6 separate regions of the Homo sapiens genome follow, and regions 2, 3, 4, 5 and 6 are each reported to be linked to region 1. Evidence: microRNA targets listed by miRTarBase, many of them from high-throughput screens and not tested one by one. Region 1 holds a microRNA gene; each other region holds the end of a gene's coding sequence.

Region 1 (4,089 bases):
AAATGAATTCTTCTGTCAGCACATACATATGTTTATACAAAAGAGAGTATCTCTATCTTCTGCTCTGTGCCTAGATTTTTTTCACTTTATGTGTTATGATTTATTCCAAATCACTACACATAGATCAGCCTCATTCTTAAGCTTTATTAAAGCATACTTTACATACTATAAAATTCATGGCCAGGTGCGGTGGCTCACGCCTGTAATCCCAGCCCTTTGGGAGGCCGAGGCTGGTGTATCATGAGGTCAGGAGTTCAAGACCAGCCTGGCCAAGATGGTGAAACTCCATCTCTACCGAAAATACAAAAATTAGCCAGGCATGGTGGCGCGGGCCTGTAATCTCAGCTACTCCGAAGGCTCAGGCAGAGAACTGCTTGAACCTGGGAGGCAGAGGTTGCAGTGAGCCAAGATCGTGCCACTGGACTCCAGCCTGGGTGACAGAGTGAGACTCTATCTCAAAAAAATTAAAAAAGAAAAATTCATTTATTATAAGTGATTTATAGTAAATTTGTTAAGTTTTACAGCCACTATCATAATTGTGTCTTAGAATAATTCTTTTATCCCGAACAGCTCCCTTTTGTGCTTTTCGAAAGAGAAGTTGCTTGGAAATCTGTGAGCTTTGGAGAATGGCAACTGAATTTGAACCCAGGCTTTGCCATTCACTGTGTGTGAGACTGAGGAATTTACTTAGCCTCTGGCTCCTCTATAAAATAGGAAAAGCAATGGTTGCAGGTAGACTGTTATGAATACTAAATAATAAATGCAAACTACTTGGTGTAAAGCACAGTATTCCATAGATGATGAGCTATTCATGTATTCACTTAAGAAACATTGTTATGTGGGCACAGTGGCTCATGCCTGTAATCCCAGCACTTTGGGAGGCCAAGGCGGCAGGATTGCTTGAAGCCAGCTGTTCAAGATTACAGTGAGACCCCATCTCTACAGAAAAATTTAAAAATTAGCTGGTGTGGTAGTGTGGGCCTGTAGTCCCAGCGACTTGGGAGGCTAAGGCGAGAGGATCGCTCAAGTCCAGGAGTTTGAGGTTATAGTGAGCTATGATCATGCCAATGCACTCCAGCCTGGATGACAGAGCAAGACACTGTCTCTTCAGAACGAAACAAAACAGAACACATTGTCAAGCACTTAGTACGTGTCAGTGCTAGGAACTGCTAGTTGCTACAGTGAACAAGACTGACATGGCCCCTGTTTTTAATGAGATAATAGTCTAGCTAGTTTATCTTCTAGTAATATTAGGGAGGCTTTGAGTGTTGTTGCTGTTTTTCACAGATGTGGAGAGGGGAATGTTAATTCTTCCTTTTAGGAACACATTCCAGATTTTCATTTTCTTTGAGCAATTTTTTTTAATTTGGTGAATGGAATTTTTTCTAAATTATGCTATTAAGAAGTTTAAACTTTTAAGTAGACTTGAGGAGTAAGAGTATGTTTTAGGAAAAGAAAGTAGAGGCTAGAGACTGGAAAGTCATTGGAAAGCTATTTCAATATTATTATAAGTTGGATCTGAGGTAAGACTTTAGGAATAATCTAAATATTGTTGCTGTGGTGTTCTTACAGAGCTTGGTCAGATGTAAACTACTAATATCTTAATACTTACATTAAGAATTAATGTAAATTCTGTCCAGTTCAGATTATTTTATTTTATTTTTGATACAGTCTCACTCTGTCACCCAGGCTGGAGTGCAGTGATGTGATCTTGGCTCACTACAACCTCCACCTCCCAGGTTCAAGTGATTCTCCCTCCTCAGCCTCCTGAGTAGCTGGGACTACAGGCACGCGCCACTGACTTGGCTAATTCTTGTATTTTTAGTAGAGATGGGCTCTTGCCACGTTGACGAGGCTGGTCTCGAACTCCTGGCCACAAAGGATCCATCCACCTCTGCCTCCCAGAGTGCTGAGATTACAGGCATGAGCTACCATGCCCAGCCTCAGACTTAGTTTAAAAGAAAAAGAATTAAAGTGATTATACCTGAGACGAGTTTCCACAAACATTTGTTTAAAATTTCACACTGGAAAGTTTTTTTTTTTTTTGGAAAGTTTTATAAGCCATGTCATTGTCTCCTCTTCTTTTTTTTTTTTTTTTTTTTTTTTGAGATGGAGTTTCACTCTTGTTTCCTAGGCTGGAGTGTAGTGGCACGATCTCAGCTCACTGCAATCTCCGCCTCCCAGGTTCAAGTGATTCTCCTGCCTCAGCCTCCTGAGTAGTTGGGATTAGAGGCATGTGCCACCACGCCCGGCTAATTTTATATATATATATTTTTTAGTAGAGACGGGGTTTCTCCATGTTGGTCAGGCTGGTCTCAAACTCCCGACCTCAAGTGATCCGCCCGCCTCAGCCTCCCAAAGTGCTGGGATTACAGGCGTGAGCCACTGTGCCCGGCTACTCTTCTTTTCACTATTTAGAGAGCAAGATGTCTAGGGAATTTCACTGAAGTGATTGAGGTGGGTGGGGATTCCTTGGTGGAATAGCCCTCTGGACTCTGAGGTGGATCATATGTATGTATTAGTAAATATAGCAAACTGGTTTAATTGATACATCCTGATAATTAAATGGTACATAGGTTGACTGGTCAGTAAGTTAGGTTAAATAAATATGAGCTTTGTCAGAAAAACACAAGTTTTCATTAGGTATATTTATGTTTTATTTACTCAATACATTTACATGGTAGTGTTACAGATTATCTTCTGTGTACCTGCCATTGCGTTGGTTGCGTGGTGTTAGTCGATTTCTGATATTGAAGTAGCACAGTCATACAGAATATTGGCCTAAAGAAATGACAGACAAACTCAGCTATATTGTCTGTCAATTCATAGGTCATTTTCCTGTATACCATTTCTGAATGATGACTTTAATCCTCTTCCATTATTGGATCTTTTTGGTGTTACAAAACTTGAATTTAAGAAAATTGATATTAATTCTTAATCATTTGTTAATTTTATAAAACAGGCTGAAAATCTTTTTTTCTGCTGGAATCAAATGAGAGTCCAAGTGACCACAATTTTCTGTCTTTCTTTATTATACCTTTATATTGTAGCAAGTTGGTAACCATCAAAAGTAACAGCATCTCCACTGGAAATTGGTACACAGTCCACATGGAGTTGCTGTTACACTTGATAACACCATTAAACATATAAGGAGATTCCTTTTGCTCATCATGGGAGCTGTACGATATCTCTAAGTATACTTGTTTCACAGAAGAAAGTCTCGATTTATTCATGTTCTAAATAAGTTTAGGGACTGGTAGATTTGAAACGCTGATGTTTTATTTTGATTTGAATTAATAGTGTCATTTGCATTTTAGATCATATTTGTATTTTATCAAGAAATAATTCCATTTCTGACTTTACTGTCATTGGTCATTTTTTGAATCTGTGAGATAATGCCATTAGAATTTGGGTTGAAATCTGTTACTAGTCAATAAAAACAGAAGAAATAATTTTTAGCATAAAAAAGATAAAATGTAGAAACACTGGCTACCTGGGAAGGAAAAGAAGTTGGTTAAATTTCTTTCATCATTTCAAACAGTTATAATCACTTTCATGCTATTAATGCTATAGTTAACATAGTGAAACTTAGCCCCTAACTTCTGGAAATTATGAGAAATTTAGTAAAAATAGCCAAGGAATTTCCAATATAATTTGAGTGTTAACTTTAGCTACCTCAAATTTTTTCTCAGTTAACAATAATAAACCTTTTGTTCAAAAAATTTATGTTCATTAAATAAAGAAAAATTTCTTCAAAATGGTTTTCTGTCAGCTTTAAAACATAAATCTAGGATTAAACTAAAAATAGAATTTCCCCTTCCAAATTTCACATTGTTCTAGAATTAAATTTAGTAAACAAATGTGAAACATTTAGCCTCTTACCTCATTCTTCTTCCAGTAAGTTACAGAAGAAAAGTTGTCTTAATAATCTTCAATATTTTTGCTTATAAAGGCAAAACACAGAAGACAGTGGGATGACAGCAGTCGTTTCTTTGTTGCTTTAGTAATCTTAATGCTGCTTAATGTCCATAACACGCTAAATAAGCCTCATTCCGGTTGATATCGAAGTTCAGAATGATTGGCTGATGT
Region 2 (4,089 bases), not on the chromosome of region 1:
AGGTAGGATTTGAATCTAGACCTCTGAGACTCATCAGTGCTTTTTCCATTAAACCATCTTCAGCAGGCAGCTTTCCATAAACCTTCCTGCCCTTGCCCCATGGCACACACACATACTTGGAAAAATATCTCCTCTAACTAGGCATTTATAACCATTCATTCAACCTTATGGATAAAAACATACCTTTGTTTCTTATTTATTGCAGCACTCATGGTTCACTCTCTGGTCTAGGACTGATGGGAATAAAAGAGGAAGAAGAAAGCGCTGGCCCAGGCCTGTGTTCGTGAGTCGGCCTGCCATGTTTCCATGTGCCATTTCTTACCCCTTGTAGGCAATGGCAAAGAATGTGGTCAGGCTGTAGCCTCCCCAACCAGCAGACAGCTTTATGGAAACTTGGTATAGCAGCTAAAAGAGTTTAGTTTGTTTATATGGCATGTATAAGTTTTCAATAAATGCCTAAAGTTCAAGCATAGTATGGGGATGTCCACAGATTGTTTCTTTGTGTCATTGAGTTTATGTGCATAGGTGCGGTACAAGGTGCTCATTCCATGTAGCACCCCTATTACGTGGTATATACTGCTAAGGAAACCAAGAGGAGTGATTACTCAGAAAACCAGCCGATTATGCAATTTGTCAAAGTTGTAATGTCTGTGAAGCAAATTTCTTTAAACTGTTTTCTTATTGACAACTCTTAAAAAATTGAAGGACAATGATAGCTGAACTGAGAAATCTGGCAAGTCCACCAGGCAGTGGAGTGGAAGATTCTTTTAGTTTTTTTAACCAGCCCTGGAAACCCCTTCCATTCCACGTTTAGGAATCCTCCTTCCCTTCAGAACATGACTGCAGTGCCACCCTTCACCAGTAGGTGCCTCCATCACACCATCTCTCCCTCTAGGAACTGGAAACTTGAAATTCAGTAAAAGCCGTTTTAATCAACTCTCAAACTGATAACAATCTGTGTTGGAAAGGACATGGGGCATAGGCACCCAATTCCAAAACTACTAGAAATATTAACTGCCCTCCAGAAAAGATGAATCTGGCATACAGTATGTATCATACCCAAAAACCTCGTAAATTGCTCTGTACACTGAGACCCTGCAATTCTACAGCATTATCCTAGGATACTAGGATAGCTACACAAAAACATGTAATGAAGGAGCTATCAGAGGGTTATTACAATGGAGTTCTAGGTAGCCAGTTCTAATGTGTGTGTGAGAGAGAGTAAATAAAATCTTCGGTGAAAGAGATCTTCAAGAAGAGGCAGTAGACCTCTGGATCCAGAATGCTTGACTTTGAATCCCAGCTTTTTAAATTATTGTGTGAACTTGAATAAATTGCTTAACATTTCTGTGCTTGGGATAATAATGGTATGTATCCGAGAGGATTACAGATTAGTGAGATTATACATTCACAGTACTGTATATTATTTGTTGTATGAAGTCTGGAGGGATACAGAATAGCATGTAGTTTGAGTACACTTTTGTAGGAGAAAATATACAAAGCTATACATAGGCTTCTAACAAAACCTGCAAGGCTATATGCCAAAACGTTAATAGTATTTATCTATGGCTAGTGCCATTGACAAATCAGGTTTTAACAAATGCTTTTCTGTTGTAGACTCGATTTTTTTTAACATTCAACATATATTGCTTTTATAATTGGAAAATAATTCTTACCACCTGCTGTCAGGAGAAGAAAAGAAGAGAAAGATAATTCTACTTAAAATTAACTCTTAGGGTTGGGCAGTTGGAGCAGTGTTTAATCTTATAAATGTAGCTTCATAAGATCTGGTCCTATATGAAAGTTTAAATGTAGCTTCTGTAAGATCTGGCCCTATGTGGAACCAGAACTGAAGAGCTTGACTTGGGATCAGACACCGCAACTTGATTCAAGTCCCTTCATCAGGAGGAAAGTTCCCTAGGTGAATTGCCAACTTCCGCTGCAAGGCCCTGAGAACAACTTGAAACTGACAGTGTTGTTGGGTTCCTTCCTGCCCAGCTGAGCTCCAAAGCTGTGAGAGCTTAGCTGCTGTTTACCTCTTGAGGCTCAAGTCCTGAGAGATAAATTAAGTGTCTGCCTCGGATATGAAGAGGCCTGGGTTGGAGCTTCACCTCCCACACACACCTGAGTATTTTGGGGCAAGTCACTTAACCTCATTTGAGGCTATTTCCACAGCTGTATAAAATAAGGAAATAACTATTTTGATTATTGAGACATTTGTGGAAAATAACACAGTAATGCACTATGTGTGAATTAATTTCCCTCTCTGGGCCTGTTTCCTCACCTTTAAAATAGGGGAAATTAGTACTTCATAAGGTTATGAGGATTAAACTAGGAAAAGTCAAGATTGAGTGCTGAATAAATGACATACTATTTTACTAGGGATCATCTCCCTGTACCAAGAGCACTCCACTTGCTCTCAAGAATAGCCAAGGCCATCTTTTTCTTAGGAAAAAGGGTAGGGGTGGAGGTTTCCCCAGGGATCCAACTCCAGAACTCTGCAGAGATGGGCCTGCACTACAAGGCCTCTGAGACTTCAGTCTGCACACTCTGTTCTTTAGCCTGATGCTCCACCTTTTGGAAGCCAAAGCTGCCAACTTGGCCTCTTGCAAAACACACATTCCATTCATAAGTGCGTTTGTGCATTTTTCCTCCCACACCCTTCTAGGCAGCCAGCGCAGAGCTGCCAAGGCAGCTGCTGGAGAAGCAGCTTCTTATGGGGGAAAAGCAACTCCAAGGGCTTTTACAGAACTCATGGTTTAGGCTTTGAACACATTACTCCCATTTTCTGGTCTCCTTGACCATAGGGGGGGTTGTTCATTTCTTTTTGCCCCCCTTTTTGTAAATAACCTCTTCCCTATTAAAAGGAAACCTATTAATGAAAATTTGAAAAATACAGAAAAATTTAAATCACAACTGATCCCACCATCAACAGTCAATGACTGCCAATATTTTATAATCGATCAACTTTTTCCATGATGATAGAAATTCTATTATTCAAAAGCAGAGTTTTAATAGCTGTGTAATATTCTAGCATTGATGTATGCCATAATTTCTAAAACAGTCCCTTTTGTTGACCTTGGAAGTTGTTCCCAAATGATGCTGCCAGTGATATCCTTGCACATACATCCTTGGGAGATATTTCTTTTAGGAAAAGTGCCTAAGTGAAATTATTGGGTTAAAGAGTACGAACACATGCTTTTAACTCCAGAAAGGATTTTACTGTTTACTAGCATAGATTTCTTTCAAATTTTTGCCATTTAAAATTTTTCATTGTATATTTAATGTCTGCTTATTTGAATACCCTTTAGATTGGCATCCTGCTTTTTTTCCCAGAAGCTTTTTGGTAAATTATTTTTCCTAAGTGAGTTGTTCATATCCTTTGCCATTTTTCTATTGGGAAGCCAGATCCTTTTCCATACTGAATTTTTAAGAGCGCCTTATGGATTCACTATATATAGTGTCCATTTACAAACTATTACAAAATTTTAGTTTGCTTTTTAAGGTATATCATTTTATGTTTAGTCTTTTGTGATTTCCTCTATTTGCTTTTATGCTTAGAAAGCCCTGACTGATCTCTGGATCCAATGACAAGTTTATATATTTCTAATGATTTAATGTCTATACTTCATAGCCTTATTTTTCTTGGAATTTATCTTGGCATGTAATAACTTTCTCCCAAATATTTAGATAATTTTACCCAATTATCTAGCTTTACTTACCCAATAAAGGAGGATGCTCCTTTATCATTTAAGTCCATGTGTATACTAGGGCCAGTATTCATGTTTTCTTCTGTCTTGTCATGTAGTAGTACCACACTATTGTGTAGCTCTATGATGTACTAGCAGTTTTAGCAGCATCACCCCAGATAAACACAGGGCCCATGGAGAGTCTCCATCAGCATGGATTACAGAACACTGTAGAGTTAAGATGCTTCGCTGCTGACTGCACTGGTGCTGCTACATTCCACCAGGACTTTTTCAGCACCCCTGAGTCAAGAGACGGGACAAGGGTCAGAACACTGAACAGAAGAATGTTAAACTCAGGTAGGAGCCTTATGTTTTTAAGACAGGGCATCCTCACAAGTCA
Region 3 (4,089 bases), not on the chromosome of region 1:
CTGGTCATGTACTGATGTGGTATTAAAACAGAAAATAATTTAATAGCAAAACTATACTAATCAGCTTAACATTATTTAATCTGCTTAACTAAGCCCCTCCATGTGTGCAGTGGTGAGAAAAACATCCTGCACTTATTTTTTACTGTTTTTTGTTGTTTGACTACTGAATGTGAAATTTGAATCTGATTACCATAAATTTTCAGAGAAGTCAATATAAAGATTTTATTACTTGTCTTATCAAAGCCCATTGTCTGATGATTAGTAGTTTTATAAGGATTAATTCATAATATGATTAAATTTTGCTTTACCCTCTTTTTTCTCCTTCCCTTTTTTAGGGGCAGCTTCATGACTTCTGGGTACCAGATTCTTAATAGGAGTTGCAGCAGCAAAAATATGAACCAAGAGAAATTCAATAAGAGCCTTTCATAGAGGAGTAGAAAGGATTATTACAGAATCCAATGAATGCCAAGAAAATGTACAGCAAATGTGCCACTTGAATATCTAGTATGAAGCTGGTAATGAAGAAATTGCCATTTCTGAAGCAGATATGAAATATGATCTGCTTAATTGTTAAGGCAACTGACCTTTCAAAAGTGCAGAGTCTTATTAAAAGAGGGGAGGGGTAGAAGCAGAATAATAGTCATATGTCTAACCTGCCCCAGTTAACTCCTCTTGTTAAATTATAAGCCAGTTATCTTTTTTAGATAGTATTTTTGTCACTTGGATAATCACAGGAAATATATAAGAAAAGAGCTTGGACTAACTTGAGAAGTTGGACATGGAAAGCAAGACCAAGTTCCAGTTGGGTTTAATTTTCCCTCTTGGTTATTTTCGGACACAAAGGGAATGCTTAAAACTGAGTTTAGTAATAAAAAGCATAAATCTCTTCTGTAACTTTTATAAACCACAGGGAGGTTTCAATCCATGCATTTTCCTTCATTACTCAAGATTATAAATCTGTTTTTAAAATACATCTAAACAAACAGTTGAGAAACAAAAGTTTGGCATGTTGTCAGATCCCCTTAAGAGGAAGAGGTTAAGCTGTAAAGTAGTGGCCCTGTTTTGATGCCAGAACATTCATATGCTGTTTGTTCTGGATTTCTTTTAAATGCATGTATTTTAAATACTGGTTAAATCTTAGAATCTTGGCTATATCTTAGAATTCTGGCTCTTGGTAACCATATTACAGAAGTCTATATTGTAAAAGCCTAAAGATCTGGACAAGTTTCCAACAACCTTGTTTCCATGAGTATATAATTTTGGCAGACACCTGAATTCTTTGGGACACTGTGTCTGTGTATGTGTGTGTGTGTGTGTGTGTGTGTGTGCGCTTGTATCTTGAAGTTGTTGCACTTCAAAACCACAGCTGCTGTAAATTCTTAAACACTGGAGAGCCATCCTTTGGTTTAAATGGTAGAGGGTTAGTGGAAGTGCACACGTTGTTTTTAGCCCAGGGGTAGTAACAAACTCTTACTAGCCAACTAGAAAATTATTTTGTTGACGAGATGTCCCTTTTAGGAGGGTTTGTTTCCTGAAAGAATGCCAACTTTTTTTGTTGTTCTTTCAGTATTGGCTTGAGTGACCTGTTCTCCTGAGTGCTCTAGTGTCTCCAGTTGTGGGGGGGAAAGATGATGGAGGGGAACAGAAACTGGACTTGATGTTTGCGGTTTGAGAGGCAAGAAAATAAAATAACTTTCTACCTCTAAATTGAGGCTTAGGAGTAAAAAGCATTTTGTCCTAAATTTATCATTTAAAATAGCATCAGTAACTTTTGAGCTCATGTCAATCAAGCATTGGCAGTCAGAGATTTTATAGGGAAGACTAAGTAAATCCAGTTTCCAAGAACCTAAACTGATTGAGGCTCCAAGAGTCAGACCAACAAAAGTTTTATTCTGTGTTGTTTACTGGTAAGAATATTATTATCTTGATACTACCTCTCAAGGGTATTGTTACAAAATGCCACTTATGGTTAAAGAGATAGATACAAAGAGTTCTATTTGACAGAAGCTTGAAACTCTGGCATCTATCTGCCCAACGATGGGGGCTTTCGTTCTGTAATTTAATCCTTTGTAGATACATTATTTGTGTGTAATTTTATACGTGTTCATATTTTTCTCATTTTGCATTGTGTAAAGTGTACAAAATCTCAAAGTATAAAATACTGCTTATATTGCTTGTAATTTACAGTGTGTAAATATTTTCTAATTGTGTACATTGATGGGGGGGACAAGTGGGTTATTCAGGTTTTTTTTTAATGACCCTTTTGTATTGCAGTTTCAACAGATAACTGTCCATCAAATTTAAAACCACTTTGATACATTTTTATTTAACAGTTCCAATAAGAAAAAAATCTCTATTTTTAATTATATTTCTCCTTTAGAAAAAAAATACTTCATGGTCCCTCTAAAATAAATGGCCAGACCTCAGTTTAGGCCCTTGTATTTATGACTCTGGTAGAGGTCTTCAGACTCCAGGTCATAGTCCAGTCAGTATTTGCATTTGGGTTCTCATGAAAACTTTGTGACTCTCTTTTAGCACAAGTAGCCCATGGTTTTTCTTCCAAATCAAGTATTTTACTTCTCCCTTGAGTCCCCATGCTTTGTCTCCCTCCTGCTGCTATTGCCCGGTGAATGGGATGGTAGAGAGGGAGAAATGTTCATTGCACAGAGAATGTCAGGCCACTTTGGGGACTTGGCAAACGAAGCTTGCACTGAGTGGTGGTGTGTTTGGCAATATTACTGTGCCAAAAATCACCTTGTCTAATTTTATGGATATGTATGGCAAACTTATTACCCTTCTTGCAAGCTGCACATTAAGGTACTTGTAAGTGTTTATGCTTTTGTGTGTAACTGTTTGCCTTTTCTAACTGCTTTTCTTGTTACTGAAAATATAATTCTACTAGTTTTATCACATTAAGAGGCTCTCCATGCACAAAATGCATTGATGTAGCCGTAAAGTAACAGCATTTGTACATTTTCTATCTCCTGATGGCAGTGGTGCCTTTGTCACCTTTTGGAAGGTTTGCATTTTGTTTCTGCTTTCAAGCGCAAATAGTAGCTTGCTTTCAGCTTCACAAAAATCTCCTCAAATGTAAAAGATACAAAATGGCGTGTTATCATCCAGGCTTAGTTGGAGTATTTGCATTTTTATTTTTATCAAAACAAATATAATTGGTGGGGACTGGCCAGTAATAATGTGTGGCGTCTTTAAGCCAAGAGTAATTTTTAAATTAAAAATGAAAATTTTAAGAGGTAGCCCATTAAACAAGCTACTGAGTTGGAGAATTAGGGGATGACTGTGGTGGTTTGTCGCTAAGGAGGCAACAGTAGGGTCCAGGCGGCGGGGCACGTAGAGCAGTTAGCATGATCCATGGTTATTCCTTACTCATGAACAGTGTCGGCGCACCTCATTATCTGTGCATTTGTTTTTCCTGGGCAGTCCTGTCAGCCAGTTAATCCACCAGCTCTTAGGAAGTAAATACAGATTTTTTTCTTTCCTTTTTTTTTTTTTTAAAGATTTTATACTACATCTTGTTAAAGTCCTATGAATGTGTGTGTGTGTGTGCTATTAAAACTGCTTTTTCTCAGTTTGAACATGTGTTTGGTAATATTTGTTTGGGAGTTGGGGAGGCTAAGTTATCTGGAATGCCCTGTTCCCTCAGCCCACCCCAGTCCCCTGGCTTTTAAACATTTCTTCTTGCTTTGGATTGTCCAGTTTTTTAGCTTGATGTCTCCTGTTTCTGGAAAACATAAAGCCACCATTGTACACAGTTCACTTTTATATAACCCAGTTAATTGCTGTATACTTTGCAATCAGGAATTCAGTAATCTCATTCTTACCTCATTCACTATGTTCATTCCACCATTCATTCTAACAATTGAGTCTCAACTACATACTAGGCACTCTTTTTAGGATTCAGTAAGGATTTGATGGTGAACAACATAGAGAACTCATGAATCTTACCTCCTGGTATCCAGGTTAAAATACTTTCTGTTCTTGGGCAAAGAGAATTAGAAACAAATACCCTTAACCTGACTCCCTTGTTCTTGAGCCCAGGACCAAGAAAGAAGAAGCTGTACAATGCAGAAG
Region 4 (4,089 bases), not on the chromosome of region 1:
TCTTCAGGTGGCTCTAAAAGCTGAGTTGAGGCCTGCTGTAGGACTGAAGATGGTTTGACCTTCTCAGGTGGCTGATGGCTGAGCTGGTATCTCCAGCTATGGTGGACTGACCTCTGCAGTGGACTTTGGAGGATGACCTGAGGCTTCCTGCTGGGTTGCAGTGGTTCAACCTCCTTAGGGAGCTCTGGTGCCTCAGCTGGGGACTCTTGCTGGACTGGAGAAAATCCACCCCTTTAGGGGAATCTGGGGTCTGAGCTGTGGCCTCTTGCTGTGATGGAGATTCAATCTTTTCTGGAGAATCCAGAGGTGGGGAAGGGGTATCATGCTGGGTTGGAGAAAAGTCAGCCTACTCAGTGGGAATAGGAGGATTGTCCTGCTGGACTGGGGAAGGTTCAACCTCCATAGTGACTTCTGTAGGTATGGTGAGGTCCATATCCATATTTTTAAATGTGGTATTAGGGAAAGTTGAATTATTTCTGAATATTAAAGATAGATCTAGAGGTGAAAATACCATCTCATCATTCAATGACCTTACAAAGTCTGAGCTGGTGACTGAGTTGTGGGCTCTTGAGGGACTGGAGGAAGTTCATCATTTTCAGGGGTATTTAGCTGCTGAATAATCATTTCTTGCTGGTCTTTCAAATGCTGAAACTGCTAAGGGGACATTGAGGACTGAGCTGGGGCCCTGTGTTTGGTTAAAATTTCAACCTGTTAGGTGAACTCTGGAGTCATGGTTACCATGTGATCCACAGGTTTCACAGTGTCATTGTGCAATGTTGGAGGCTGAACTTGATCATGACTTAGAGAAACTGTTACCTCATGATGCACTGGAGATTAGCTATAACTTCAATAGGGATCTCTGAAGGCTGAGCTGGGGTCTATTGCTGTGTTGGAGAAGACTCAACCTCCTCAGGCATCTGTGGATACTCAGCAGCAGCCTTCTGCTGGGCTGGAGAGAGGTTCTCATCTTTAATAGCTGGAGATTGAACTGAAGTCTCCTGTTGAACTGGTAAAGTCATCTTCTGATGACTATGGAGGCAGAGTTGGGCCCCCGTGCTGGGTCATGGAAGGTTCCACATCATTAACTGCCCCTGAGAGCTAAGCTGTAGCCTCCTGGTGGATTGGAGAAGTTCCCACCTCTGCAGTAGGCTCTGTTGCTATGGTGAGCTGCATAACTGGAGGCTTAACAGTGACAATGGGCAAATCTGAATGCTGAGCTTTATGGTGACCTGGAGGTGAAACTTTTACTTCATGATGTTCTGGAGGCTGAGCTGGGGTCTCGTGCTGGGCTGGAGACGATTCAACCTCCCCTGAAGACTCAGAAGTCTGAGCTGTCTGTTCTTGCTCACTCGGGGGAGATTCATCCTCCACAGGACTTGGAGCCTCAGTTAAATCCTGTTGGTTTGCAGAAGTTTCCACTCCCTCTGGAGGCTGGGTTGGGACCTCCTGCTGGGCTGCAGAATATTTAGTCTCTTTGATAGGCTCTGAAGTTATGGTAATCTCTACATCCACAGGTTTAACTGTCATTTGTATAATGAGCTTGATCCTCACCCTGAGTTTGAACTGTCACCTCATAATTCAGTGCAGTTTGATATGCACTCTCCATAGAGAACTTTGGAGGCTGAGCGGTGGCCTCCTGCTGGGTCTGGGAAGGTTCAACCTCCCCAGGAAACTCAGAAGGCTGAGCTGGCTGTTCCTGCTCACTTGGAGAAGGTCTGGCCTCCATAGGAGGAACTGGAGGCTCAGCTGGGGTCCTGTGCTGGGTTGTAGATTTCATCTCCTCAGGGCACTCTGGTGTCTAAGCTGGGTCCTCTAATTGGGTTGAGGAAGGGTCCATCTTCTCAGGGTGCTCTGGAGGCTGAGTTGTGGCCTGTTCCCGGCTTGATGTAAGTTTCTTATCTGGCTTTGGACTTATTGTAAGCTCCAAATCCACAAGTTTGACTGTTACATTGGGCAAGTGTGAGTGATGAGCTTCACTCCAACTTTTTTTGTTTGTTTGAGATGGAGTCTCACTCTGTCGCCCAGGCTGGAGTGCAATGGTGCAATCTCAGCTCATTGCAACCTCCACCTCCCAGGTTCAAGCGATTCTCCTTCCTCAGCCTCCTGAGTAGCTGGGATTACAGGTGCTCACCACTACACCCAGCAAACTTTTGTATTTTTAGTAGAGACAGGGTTTCACCATGTTGGTCAGGATAGTCTCGAACTCCTGATCTCAGGTTATCCACCCTCTTTGGCCTCCCAAAGTGCTAGGACTACAGGTGTAAGCCACTGCACCTGGCCTCACTCCAACTTTTTAATGCAACATTTACCTGATAACGTATTCATAACTGAGCTACAATCTCTTCAGGGCAGGTAGCAGCTGTGTTGGGGCCTCCTGCTCTGTTGAAGAATGGACCCCCTTAAGGGACTGAGAAGGAAGAGCTGGGGCCTCCTACGGGGTTGAAGAAGTTTCTACGTATTCAGGGACCTGTGGAAGCTGTGCTGGGGCTTCTTGCTGGAGTGAAGATGACTGGATCTCTTGGAGGGTCTGTGGATTTTGAGTTTCGGGCTCTAGATAGAATTGGCAAAAGTCCAACTTGCTCATGGGGCCCTGGAGGCTCATCTTTCACCTGGACTTCTGGAGGAAGGCTGCCCAGATACAGTATATCCATACCTGAATCTAAATACTAAATGCTTGTAAAGTTTGTTTCTGACACTGAGGTTTTGATACAAATCGGTGTGGAGTTCCAACAACAACCTTAGCAAGCCTCCGATGCTTAGGTAGATCTTTCTTCTTCAGGTTTTTGGGTGAAACACTAATCTTCATTGCTTTTGAATTCTGACTATCTAGAGGTGGAACAAGTATTTCATATGCCTAATGATCTGCAGCCTGATCTAGACTTACAGTTTGAACCTTACTTTTGAGGCAAAGAGGCCGAGCTACCGTCTGGTTCTGATCCCAGTCTAGCATTGGAACCAACTCTGGGAGCCTTTCTTGTGAGTCAGCTTATCATTCAGATCCTGGTGTGCAACAGCGAACTTCTCTGGCCCCAGGGGCAGCTCTCCAGCTGAATCTGTGTCCAGAAATGGAACCAAAGTCTCAGTCGGTTCCTGAGGCGAGGCTGACATCTGGGTGGCAGTAGAGGACCTCAGGTTATCAAAGCTCCCGGGTCTGTATGGGGGTGGGGGTGGATAAACGCATAGGGAGGTTCCGGGGGGAGATCGGAGGAGCGCCAAGCCCAGGGCTCAGTTGGCCTCAGGGGGTCGGAGGTCAGCTGGAGTGGGCCCTGGACCCACTCCAGAGGCTGAGCCTCCTGGACTAGTAGTCACAGTAGTTGTCACGTGAGGAGGGGCCATAGGGACCAGAGACGCAGCCGGTACATGACAGAAGTTGGCGTCCCGCACTGAGCAGAAGCCATTATGGCAGCCACCAGATGCCCGCGCCCTTAGCAACCGCGGCCCCGCCTCGTCCGTTATTTACCATATCTTTATCTAGGCAACCTTTATTAAGTTCCGTTCGAGATCCGCTCCTCGTCACCAGGGCGATCTTATCCCACAATCCTACCCAAGCCTCCCTTCCCACTCCACCAGAACACCCCTTCCCTCCCCTTCGCCAGGAAAGATTTGGGCGGCCGACCCAGGTGGTTCCAGGACTCCAGCAGCCTATAGTGGTGGGGCGGCGTGGGGTAGGGGCACGACAGAGCTTCCCAAGGAAGTTACATGACCTCGCCTTGGGATATTCAGAAATGCTAGTCAAGTTCTGGCAGCCTGAACTCTTCCTCCTCCAAGCTGAAATCCGAGAGATACCCTTCCTCCTCTTGGCCATACTGCTTCCAGGGAGAGCAAGGGACCTGCAAAATGTGCGCTAGTTAGGGTGGCAGGCAGAACGCACATTACGGTCATTCATTCCAAAATGTTGCCGTTTTTGCTAAACTTTCCATATCCTTTGTTGCATGTTTGATAATTCACCACTCTATTAGGTAGGGGCTGCCAGGGAATAAGTGAAGACTCCAAATTTTCTGTAGGAGGGGTTTTGGGAGGTGGGCAATTCAGTCTGGGAGAGAAGTTTGAACTGTCATCCTGCCTTGACTTAACACAGCCATTACCCTA
Region 5 (4,078 bases), not on the chromosome of region 1:
GAACCTGTTTCTTAAAACATATATATATGTATATTCAAATCTGTTAGCAGAAAGTACTTTAAGCAGACTCTAACATAAATTCCTGGAAGACCAAGCTAAGAAGTCTTATTTTGCTGTGTCCTGATGCATGTTTCTGTCTGCTGAGATTTGACTCGATGCCCCTCGCCGCAGGCTGTGCCTCAGGGCAGAGGTTGGGCGCTCACTCCTGGCCGAGTGCTGCGGGGAGGGGCGGTCTCCACGGAGGATGGATGCGGCTAACCCGCTGCTTGTCTGTCTCTTGGCGCAGTTGCCATCAACCTGATCGTGCAGCACATCCAGGACATTCTGAATGGTGACATCTGCAAATGGCACCGAGGAGGGTCCAATGGGCGGAGCTACAAGCGGACCTTTTCTGAGCCAGGGGACCACCCTGGGATGCTGACCTCTGGCAAACGGTCACATTTGGAGTCCAGCAGCAGACCCCACTGAGGGGCTGCCGAGCCTCAGGGCAGGTCTCCCGCCCGGCATGTGTGTTCAGGGACTGAGCCTGGGGACGCCCACCCACACCCACTGCTTCCTCTCGGCGCACCCCAGGGGAGTGTTAGCAGCGAGGCCTTCCTCACTCAGGAGTGGAAACTCAGATGTGTCACTCAGACTCAACTTGCTGGGACACTGACAGGCGTTCCTGAGGTTTTCAGCCACTTAGGCTCGTTGCGGTTTAAAGATCCCTCTAGGTCACTGAGAAATGCCACAGAATGTGCAGGAAGCCTGGGAGGCTTCTGTGAGGAATGTGAGGCACATTATTGGGGAAATTGAGGAGACAGCCTAGACACTGGCTGGCCTGATGTTTTGTTGACAGTGAACCCACAGTGGGAGAGAGTTTTTTCCAGTCTGATCTGGTTCTTACACACTCACACACATAACTCAAAAGTTTTGTGAACAAGTACTTTCCTTTTTTACATGTTACATGTCCTCATGTTTTCTGTTTTCTGTTTCATAACACAAGGCTGGTTGTGGCCTACAAACCTAATTTCATGACCCAGTGGTTTGCAGTCCAGCGTGGCCTACACGGATATGGGGAGCCACTGAGGGATGTTTTCCCCCCTTGCTTGTGCCTTAAAGGCAGAGAAGCGAGGCGGATGCCCTGGAAGCACCCAGCATCACACCCAGGCTTGTGCGGGGCCAGGCTGGGAGCCCATGCAGTAGGGCAGAAGGCAGCGGAGGCCAGGTCTGTCCCGGCTGGAGAACAGCGTCCACGCAGTCCTGCCTGGGGTCAGGCCCTCACTGACCCTCAGGGGAGCCCCCAAGGTGCTGTCTGTCTAGACAGGCTGTCCCACCCCAGGGTGGCTAGTGGCCATATGCAGGGAATGGTGCTTCTGGCTGTGGCACGCACTGGATCACCCAGGTCCCAGCAGACATGGCCGCCCAAAGTCAGCAAGCCTCCTTTGTGCTATGTGGAGCTCACAGCCTCACATGTGAACACCCGTGTCTGGGTTGCCTGGGGTGATCCTCCCTCCTGCGTGGTGGCTGTCTCTGGAAAGCATCCCTTGCCGCTGCCATGGGCAGCCCCAGCCCCCGTCCGTCCAGGCTCACCCACAGTAGTGATGCAGACGTGACGTGGGGGAAGGGGGCTGAGCCCTGTGGCTGGGTTCTGACAACTGTAACGGTTTTGTCGAGCTTAGGCCCCTTTGGAGGGAGAATCAATAAATAACAAACACCAACTACAAACGCCAGTTGGTTCCTTTTTTAATTACATTTAAAAAAGACAAAGGCATGGAGCTGTATGGATGACACACCTTGACCACTGACGAGGAAGATTTCACTCAGCCACGTCTCAGTGGAGTCTCAGAGGGGAGGGTTTCCACACAGCACGGTGCCAAGGGCCAGTCTTGACGCTGTCATAGACAATGACATGCAAGCCCCAGCCCTGGCTCGTGGTTCAGGTGGCCCTCCAACACTGAGCTGTCCCAGGACGCCTGCCGGGCTCGCTGAGGGCAGGGCCGGGACTTGCTCAGGTTGCTGGGTGTTCATGAAGGAGGATCGGGTCTGCCAGATCAAACTCCACCCTGCAGCAGTTAGCAAGGACCAGGCCCTGGTCTGCTGAGGCTCCACTGCTGGCCCTGGGTTCTCGGCTTTTTGTTGTCAATGACTCCTACGCTGGCCTCTGAAATACTCCCTGTGTCTTAGTTCAGGGGTAAAGACACGGAATATCTTTATTGTCGAGAAAAAATTAACTTTGCACAAAAGGAGGTGCTCATCAGAGAGCTTTTCAATGAGACCCCCATGTGTTCCACTAGAGGCCCTGCTCAGCCCAGCCCGTGTCCTCCCAGCGTGGGGCCCACCCTGCTCATTACGTACATTGACCAAGACCCTTCAACCTCATCCCGACCCCAGCACGGGTGTTCTTTGCCACACTCTTGTTCTAGTGTTTTCGGATCAAGATGTCCCAGCTGTCTTTCCAGCGAAGGGCCTTGAGTTCATGTGGCGAGAGTGACTTGTCCCCGTAGGTGAGTGGGCGCAGCGTGTTGGACACGTGGCACGCGGAGGAGTACCAGGCCACCACCAGGGCGCTGAAGATGCTCCTCTGGAGCTGGGACCTGCAGAGGTCAGAGCAGCGTGGGGGAGGGTGGCTGACCACTGCGGCTTCCCTGCCCGGCACCCTCTTGGCATCTGCTGTCCACACGGTCACCCCCCGAGGCCTGGGGTTCTGCCTTCAGGTTTCTGTGTCTTGTCTCCTGCCACCCATGACCATCTCCCACCTGGATGCACTGAGAGGGGCCCCCTGATGACTCCTCAGGCCTCCACAGTGGCTGGGCCACCTCCACACAGATGCCAGAGGACTGGTCCCAAACCCACGGTCCTCCCTTGTGTGGCTTCCTGAAACCGGGAGGCCCTCGCCCTCTGCTCCAACCTCCAAACACACTCTGGTTTAGAAGCTTTCTTGGGTTCTCTCCACCACACCACACAACCCGACCATAACCAGCTGCCGTTTCTGACACCCCAGGCTCCTGGGCCTTGCTCCCTGCTCCCGAATCCTCCAGGCCACCCACATCTCTTCATCCCCTCCCCGTCTCCCCACCCACTCCGCTTTCATCTCTGTCAGCCGCGACTTCTCCCTCTGGGTTCCTGCAGTGCCTCATCTGGGCATCTCTTCTGAACCTCACCCATTCCCCGGAGGGACCCGGAGGATGTCAGTGTAACGTGAAATGGGTGAGGTTCGCTGCACCCCATGTGTTTGCTGCGCATGGGCTTCCCAGCAGAGGGCTGCTGCCCGGTCCAGCCACTGTCTCCGCAGCCCCCGTACCTGCACAGGTGGTCGCTGATGTGCTGCAGGACCACAGGGAGCAGAAGGATTTGGAAGGTGAGTGCGGGCAGGTAGTGGTAGAGGAAGAGTGTCTTCTCCATCAGGAAGAACGGGAGGTAGTTCACTGCCCAGCCACCGGCACACAGCGCCCCAGCCAGCACCCAGCGCAGCCAGGCATCTATAGGAAAGGGCTCGAGCTACACCGACTCTGCTGCTCCCACAGGCCGGGTCTTCTCTCTCTTTTGCTTTTTTAGAGAGAGGGTTCTTACTATGTTGCCCAGGCTGGTTTTGAACTCCTGGCCTCAGGTGACTCCCTCACTTTGGCCTCCCAAAGTGCTGGGATTACAGGTGTAAGCCACCGCGCCCGGCCTGGCTGCCTGTGTTACCCAGCCATTTCCAGCGCATACGGGCAACATGGGACCAAGAGGGCAATTCCTGCCCAATACGCTGCACTCGACTGGAGACACCTCTAACGCAACATGGGAACTTAACATTTTGTCTCTTGGGAGACAAACATAATTTAAGATTCCACAATACAGAAACAAAGAGGCCGCGTTAAGGGGTAGGTTCCTATGAAGTCGGTTTGTCACTTGAGGCGGTGAATGCTCAGCGCACACCTGTAATCCTAGCACTATGGGAGGCCGAGGCAGGAGGATCGCTTAAGCCCAGGAGTTCAAGAACACCCTGGACAACACAGCAAGACCCCATGTCTATATTAAAAAGAAAGAAAGCCATGTGGGAGAGGTACTAACCCTGAGGGAGGTCATGGACATTTCTTCGCCGTCGGAGCAGGTA
Region 6 (4,089 bases), not on the chromosome of region 1:
AAAGAGATAATCACTCCAAAAGGAAAACGTAAGGGGTATTTTCAAGCAATCTACAAACAATATGGTTAATAAGCAATAAAAATTATTGCTCATTAGTGACCTGATTAAAATGGTCACTATTTAAAATGATTAAAATGATTAAATCATTTAAAATGATTAAAATGGTGACATTAATAATGAGATTTAGTGGCCAGGCGCAGTGGCTCACACCTGTAATCCCAGCACTTTGGGAGGCCAAGGTGGATCACCTGAGGTCAGTAGTTCGAGACCAGCCTAGCCAACATGGTGAAACCCCATCTCAACTAAAAATACAAAATTAGCCGGGCATAGTGGTGCATGCCTATAGTCCCAGCTACTCGGAAGGCTGAGGCGGGAGAATTGCTTGGATCTGGAAGGTGGAAGTTGCAGTGAGACGAGATCGCGTCATTGCACTCCAGCCCGGGCAACAAGAGCAAAGCTCCATCTCAAAAAAAAAAAAAAAAAAAAAAAGAGAGAGATTTAAATGATTTTTTGCTTATCAGTCTAAAGAGAAAGATTTATCATAATTGGTGTTGATAAGGATGTAGGGAAGCAGATGTTGATAAAAGTGTAAACTGTGCAACCTTCCTAGAGGTCTTAAATGGAGACACGTTTTTACTTAGAGTTCCAACTTCTAGGAGTTCTTGACAGTAACTCTTTTATACACAAAGATTTATCTGTAAGGATACTATTCATTGTTGTTTGTTTGTTTTTTGTTTTTGTTTTTGTTTTTTTGAGACAGAGTCTCACTCTGTCGCCCAGGCTGGAGTGCAGTGGTGCGGACTCGGCTCATTGCAACCTCTCTGCCTCTTGGGTTCAAGCGATTCTCCTGTCTCAGCCTCCCCAGTAGCTGAGATTACAGACATGCACCACCACGCCCAGCTAGTTTTTTGTATTTTTAGTAGAGATGGGGTTTCACATCATGTTGGCCAGGCTGGTCTCGCATTTCTGATCTCAAGTGATCCACCCGCCTCAGCCTCCCAAAGTGCTGGGATTACAGGCATGAGCCACCATGCCCAGCCTATTAATTGTTGTTTGTAACAGCTAAAACCTAGCCACAGCCAAAGTTCAACAGTCAGCAGTTAGCTACGTAAACTCGGCATATTCACACACTGGAATACTATGTAACTAGTAAAAGCCATGAAATAGAAATATTAATGACATCACTGGCCAGGCACGGTGGCTCATCATGCCTGTAATTCAAGCACTTTAGGAGGCCGAGGAAGGTGGATCACTTGAGACCAGGAGTTCAAGATCAGCCTGGTCAACATGGTGAAACCCCATCTCTACAATTTAAAAAAAAAAAGTAATGAGAAATATTAATGACATCAGAAAATGTTCAACTCCATTAAGTGACAAATGCAGGTTATAACACTATATATAGCCTGACACCAATTTTGGTTTTTCTTCTTTTTATAACAAGTACTTTATTTTCTTCTTTGTGCTTTTCTAAATTTCCCAATGTACATGTATTACTTTTATAATAAAAATATGATAAAACTACTAATTAATACAAACCACAAAACTCCTGATTATTGTATTTTCATTTATAATATACAATTTTCCAATCAAATTTACACTTGTATATTCAGTTGAGTAGAAATATCTGGTTAAATACAGGTTTCAGATATATGTGTTCAACACAAAAAGGACACTGAGAAAAATTTATGATCATTTCAAGAGACCATTTAAAGCTAATAAGCACGGTTTGGAAATTTCTCACTGAAAAGCTGGAACTACATACCCCATTTAAGAAAAGACTTGAAGATCTATTATTCTAACCCATTGCTTGTTTTGCACCCTCTTTACAATATATCTAAATAAATTTATTTTCTGAATATTCAAATTTGACTATTTCTGCAATTTAAAGCATCAAAATGACCCTCCAAATAGTAAATATTATAAAACTGCTGATTATTACTTATCATGAGAAATAACTTAATGAAAACCTATTTACAAATTAACAGCCCATCCATCCAAAGATTATATGTATTTCAATATTATAATTTATAAGAACAAGATATCCAATCTGCTCAAAAAGAAAATACAATTAATTTAGCATATGGAAACCACTTGCTTTTGCCAATACAACAAAATATCTGTAAATTATGTAGTGCTCAATAAAGTGAATGTAAGTTTATAATTGAAACTTCATTCACACAAAAAAATGGTCTTTTACTAGCAAAACTGAATATTACAGCTTTTCAACTATATTCTAAATAAAAATAATTAAAAATCAATTCAAAAAATTCAGAATAAGTGCTTTATTTTTTTAAATCTCACAAAAACTGAAACTACCATTTACATCAGTTGTAATAGCAATAAAAATTAGAAATCAATTTGCTATAACTCTTGAAAACATTTATAAAAACAAAATTAAACAAAAAATAAACAAAAAGGTAAAACTAAGTATTCATTTTAAATTAAAGATAATCTGACTCCTTATGACATACCCACTTGCAGATGTATAAATAGCAGATGCATTCAAAACAGTGCAAGATTTAATTAATTTAGGACAATATTCCAATCAATCCCAATGCAGGTTTTAAATTACTCGTGCACGTTTATATAGAATCATAAAAATAAACCTCTAATATGTAATCAGCTTATAGCCAATTCAGAAAACTCCACACCAATACAACAACTGTGGAAATCATGAGATATGACTGGGGGGAGAAAAGCAAAACCTAGCATCAAAAGTGCATATACTCATTGTAACTACAATCTTACTATATATTCCTACTTTTGTTTTAAAAAAAGTTTTCTTTAAACTATATGTCTCAAAGGGATACTAAAGGTATAATTTCATATTCTTTTTTGAATTTAAAAAACATATACGTAATCCTCCTTTGTTTTGGTAAGTTCAAATATGAATTGACAGTGGGGTAATTGGATTGTGGATTCTTTAAGAAAGCTCTAAGAAGAGAATACAACATACTATATCTTCTTTAAGAAGTATGAGCTGAAATGTTAGGCATTCCTTGTATTGTTTTTTAAATATATTTAAGGAATGCTGTTTTTGTAAAACCATGGCTTTGAAAAAGAAATCTGAGATCAAAATACATTACTAGAAGATCTCTATAAAAGGTCACCAAGACTATCCTTGTTTGTGAAATCAGGGAAAACATTTTTAGAATTTATCTTGTTAGAAAAAATGCTACCACTTTTCTTTCTTTTTCTTCTTTCTTATTATCACAATTAAACACCAGAAGATTTTCCCCAAATAAATACTGATGTAAATGTTGACTTCAAGGACAAAGAACTTTCATAAGAGTCTATTTCTCAGGCATTTCACCATTTCTTGAGACCACAGGACACAGGCAGCACTGTTTAATGTGAATTGTCACTGGACTCCGGTGAAATATTCCTTCTGGGAGAGTTTATTGGTACCTGAAGCTCACTGGTAGATGTAGGTTTAGCAGCATTTGGTGGCTTTGTAGAGGAATTAGGTGGAAGTCTATGACGATTACTCTCCTCACCAGAAGTAGAGGAATGTCTTTTTCTTCCAAATTCATCACTAATAGGGGGCTGCAAATGATGAAAGGCAACACCGTTGACAATTTTACTGTTTTTCCTCCCTTCAGAATCTAAGGCTAGACTTTTCCCCAAAAAAGTAAGTTAAATGGACACTTCAGTATAATTTTTTTTTTTTTTTTTTTTTTTGATGGAGTCTCATTCTGTCACCCAGGCTGGAGTGCAGTGGCGCGATCTCGGGTCACTGCAAGCTCCGCCTCCCGGGTTCACGCCATTCTTCCGCCTCACAGATTGTATTAGTATAACAAAAACTTAACAGCAACTTAAGGTACTAAACTTAAATTTCCTTCCTAACTAAATCAGCCTACTAGTATTTGCTCATTCTTTTACTCAACATATGTTTGTGGTTTTTGTTTTTTGTTTTTGAGACGGAGTCTCACTCTGTAGCCCGAGTGTTTTTTTTGTTTGCTTGTTTTTTGTTTTTGTTTTGAGACAGAGTCTCACTCTGTAGCCCAAGCTGATGTGCAGTGGTGCCACATCGGCTCACTGGAATCTTTGCCTTTGGGGTTCAAGCGATTCTCCTGCCTCAGCCTCCCA

What was found. Region 1 holds the annotated microRNA hsa-miR-215-5p (AUGACCUAUGAAUUGACAGAC, at 2,814-2,834, opposite strand). A microRNA usually pairs through its seed, bases 2 to 8, with sites in the 3' UTR of a target mRNA and lowers its output. Matches are read on the target gene's strand: a 7mer-m8 pairs with bases 2 to 8, a 7mer-A1 pairs with bases 2 to 7 and ends in A, and an 8mer does both.
Region 2: miRTarBase lists REXO5 as a target of hsa-miR-215-5p. The part of its 3' UTR that is shown has no 7-base or 8-base seed match.
Region 3: the mRNA of SLF2 is a reported target of hsa-miR-215-5p. The part of its 3' UTR that is shown has no 7-base or 8-base seed match.
Region 4: the mRNA of RDM1 is a reported target of hsa-miR-215-5p. The part of its 3' UTR that is shown has no 7-base or 8-base seed match.
Region 5: miRTarBase lists UCK1 as a target of hsa-miR-215-5p. Seed matches in the 3' UTR shown: 7mer-m8 at 711-717.
Region 6: miRTarBase lists LARP1B as a target of hsa-miR-215-5p. The part of its 3' UTR that is shown has no 7-base or 8-base seed match.

Annotation. Positions count from the first base shown.
Region 1 is chr1:220,115,103-220,119,191 of GRCh38, forward strand. It overlaps MIR215 (microRNA 215), which reads right to left and starts at 2,860; the gene lies at 2,751-2,860. All of the region lies in intron 12 of IARS2 (isoleucyl-tRNA synthetase 2, mitochondrial), which reads left to right. It overlaps MIR194-1 (microRNA 194-1), which reads right to left and starts at 3,139; the gene lies at 3,055-3,139. LOC124904515 (a long non-coding RNA gene) reads right to left here and starts at 4,011. Exons shown (of 2, transcript XR_007066883.1): 1 at 3,883-4,011; 2 at 2,640-2,781.
Region 2 is chr16:20,849,194-20,853,282 of GRCh38, forward strand. REXO5 (RNA exonuclease 5) reads left to right here. Exons shown (of 20, transcript NM_030941.3): 20 at 206-472. The coding sequence ends at 287. Among named protein-coding and RNA genes, the nearest start is that of REXO5, 45 kb to the left of the region's middle.
Region 3 is chr10:100,961,542-100,965,630 of GRCh38, forward strand. It overlaps SLF2 (SMC5/6 complex localization factor 2), which reads left to right. Exons shown (of 20, transcript NM_018121.4): 20 at 336-3,593. The coding sequence ends at 371. Among named protein-coding and RNA genes, the nearest start is that of SEMA4G, 5.9 kb to the right of the region's middle.
Region 4 is chr17:35,914,614-35,918,702 of GRCh38, forward strand. It overlaps RDM1 (RAD52 motif containing 1), which reads right to left. Exons shown (of 7, transcript NM_145654.4): 7 at 3,467-3,830. The coding sequence ends at 3,729. It also overlaps the pseudogene LOC100133244 and the pseudogene LOC124903988. Among named protein-coding and RNA genes, the nearest start is that of RDM1, 14 kb to the right of the region's middle.
Region 5 is chr9:131,521,430-131,525,507 of GRCh38, reverse strand. UCK1 (uridine-cytidine kinase 1) reads left to right here. Exons shown (of 7, transcript NM_031432.5): 7 at 287-1,707. The coding sequence ends at 468. It overlaps POMT1 (protein O-mannosyltransferase 1), which reads right to left. Exons shown (of 20, transcript NM_001077365.2): 18 at 4,036-4,078; 19 at 3,284-3,461; 20 at 1,709-2,576. The coding sequence ends at 2,402. Among named protein-coding and RNA genes, the nearest start is that of UCK1, 7.8 kb to the left of the region's middle.
Region 6 is chr4:128,209,313-128,213,401 of GRCh38, reverse strand. It overlaps LARP1B (La ribonucleoprotein 1B), which reads right to left. Exons shown (of 20, transcript NM_018078.4): 20 at 1,414-3,546. The coding sequence ends at 3,349. Among named protein-coding and RNA genes, the nearest start is that of PGRMC2, 76 kb to the left of the region's middle.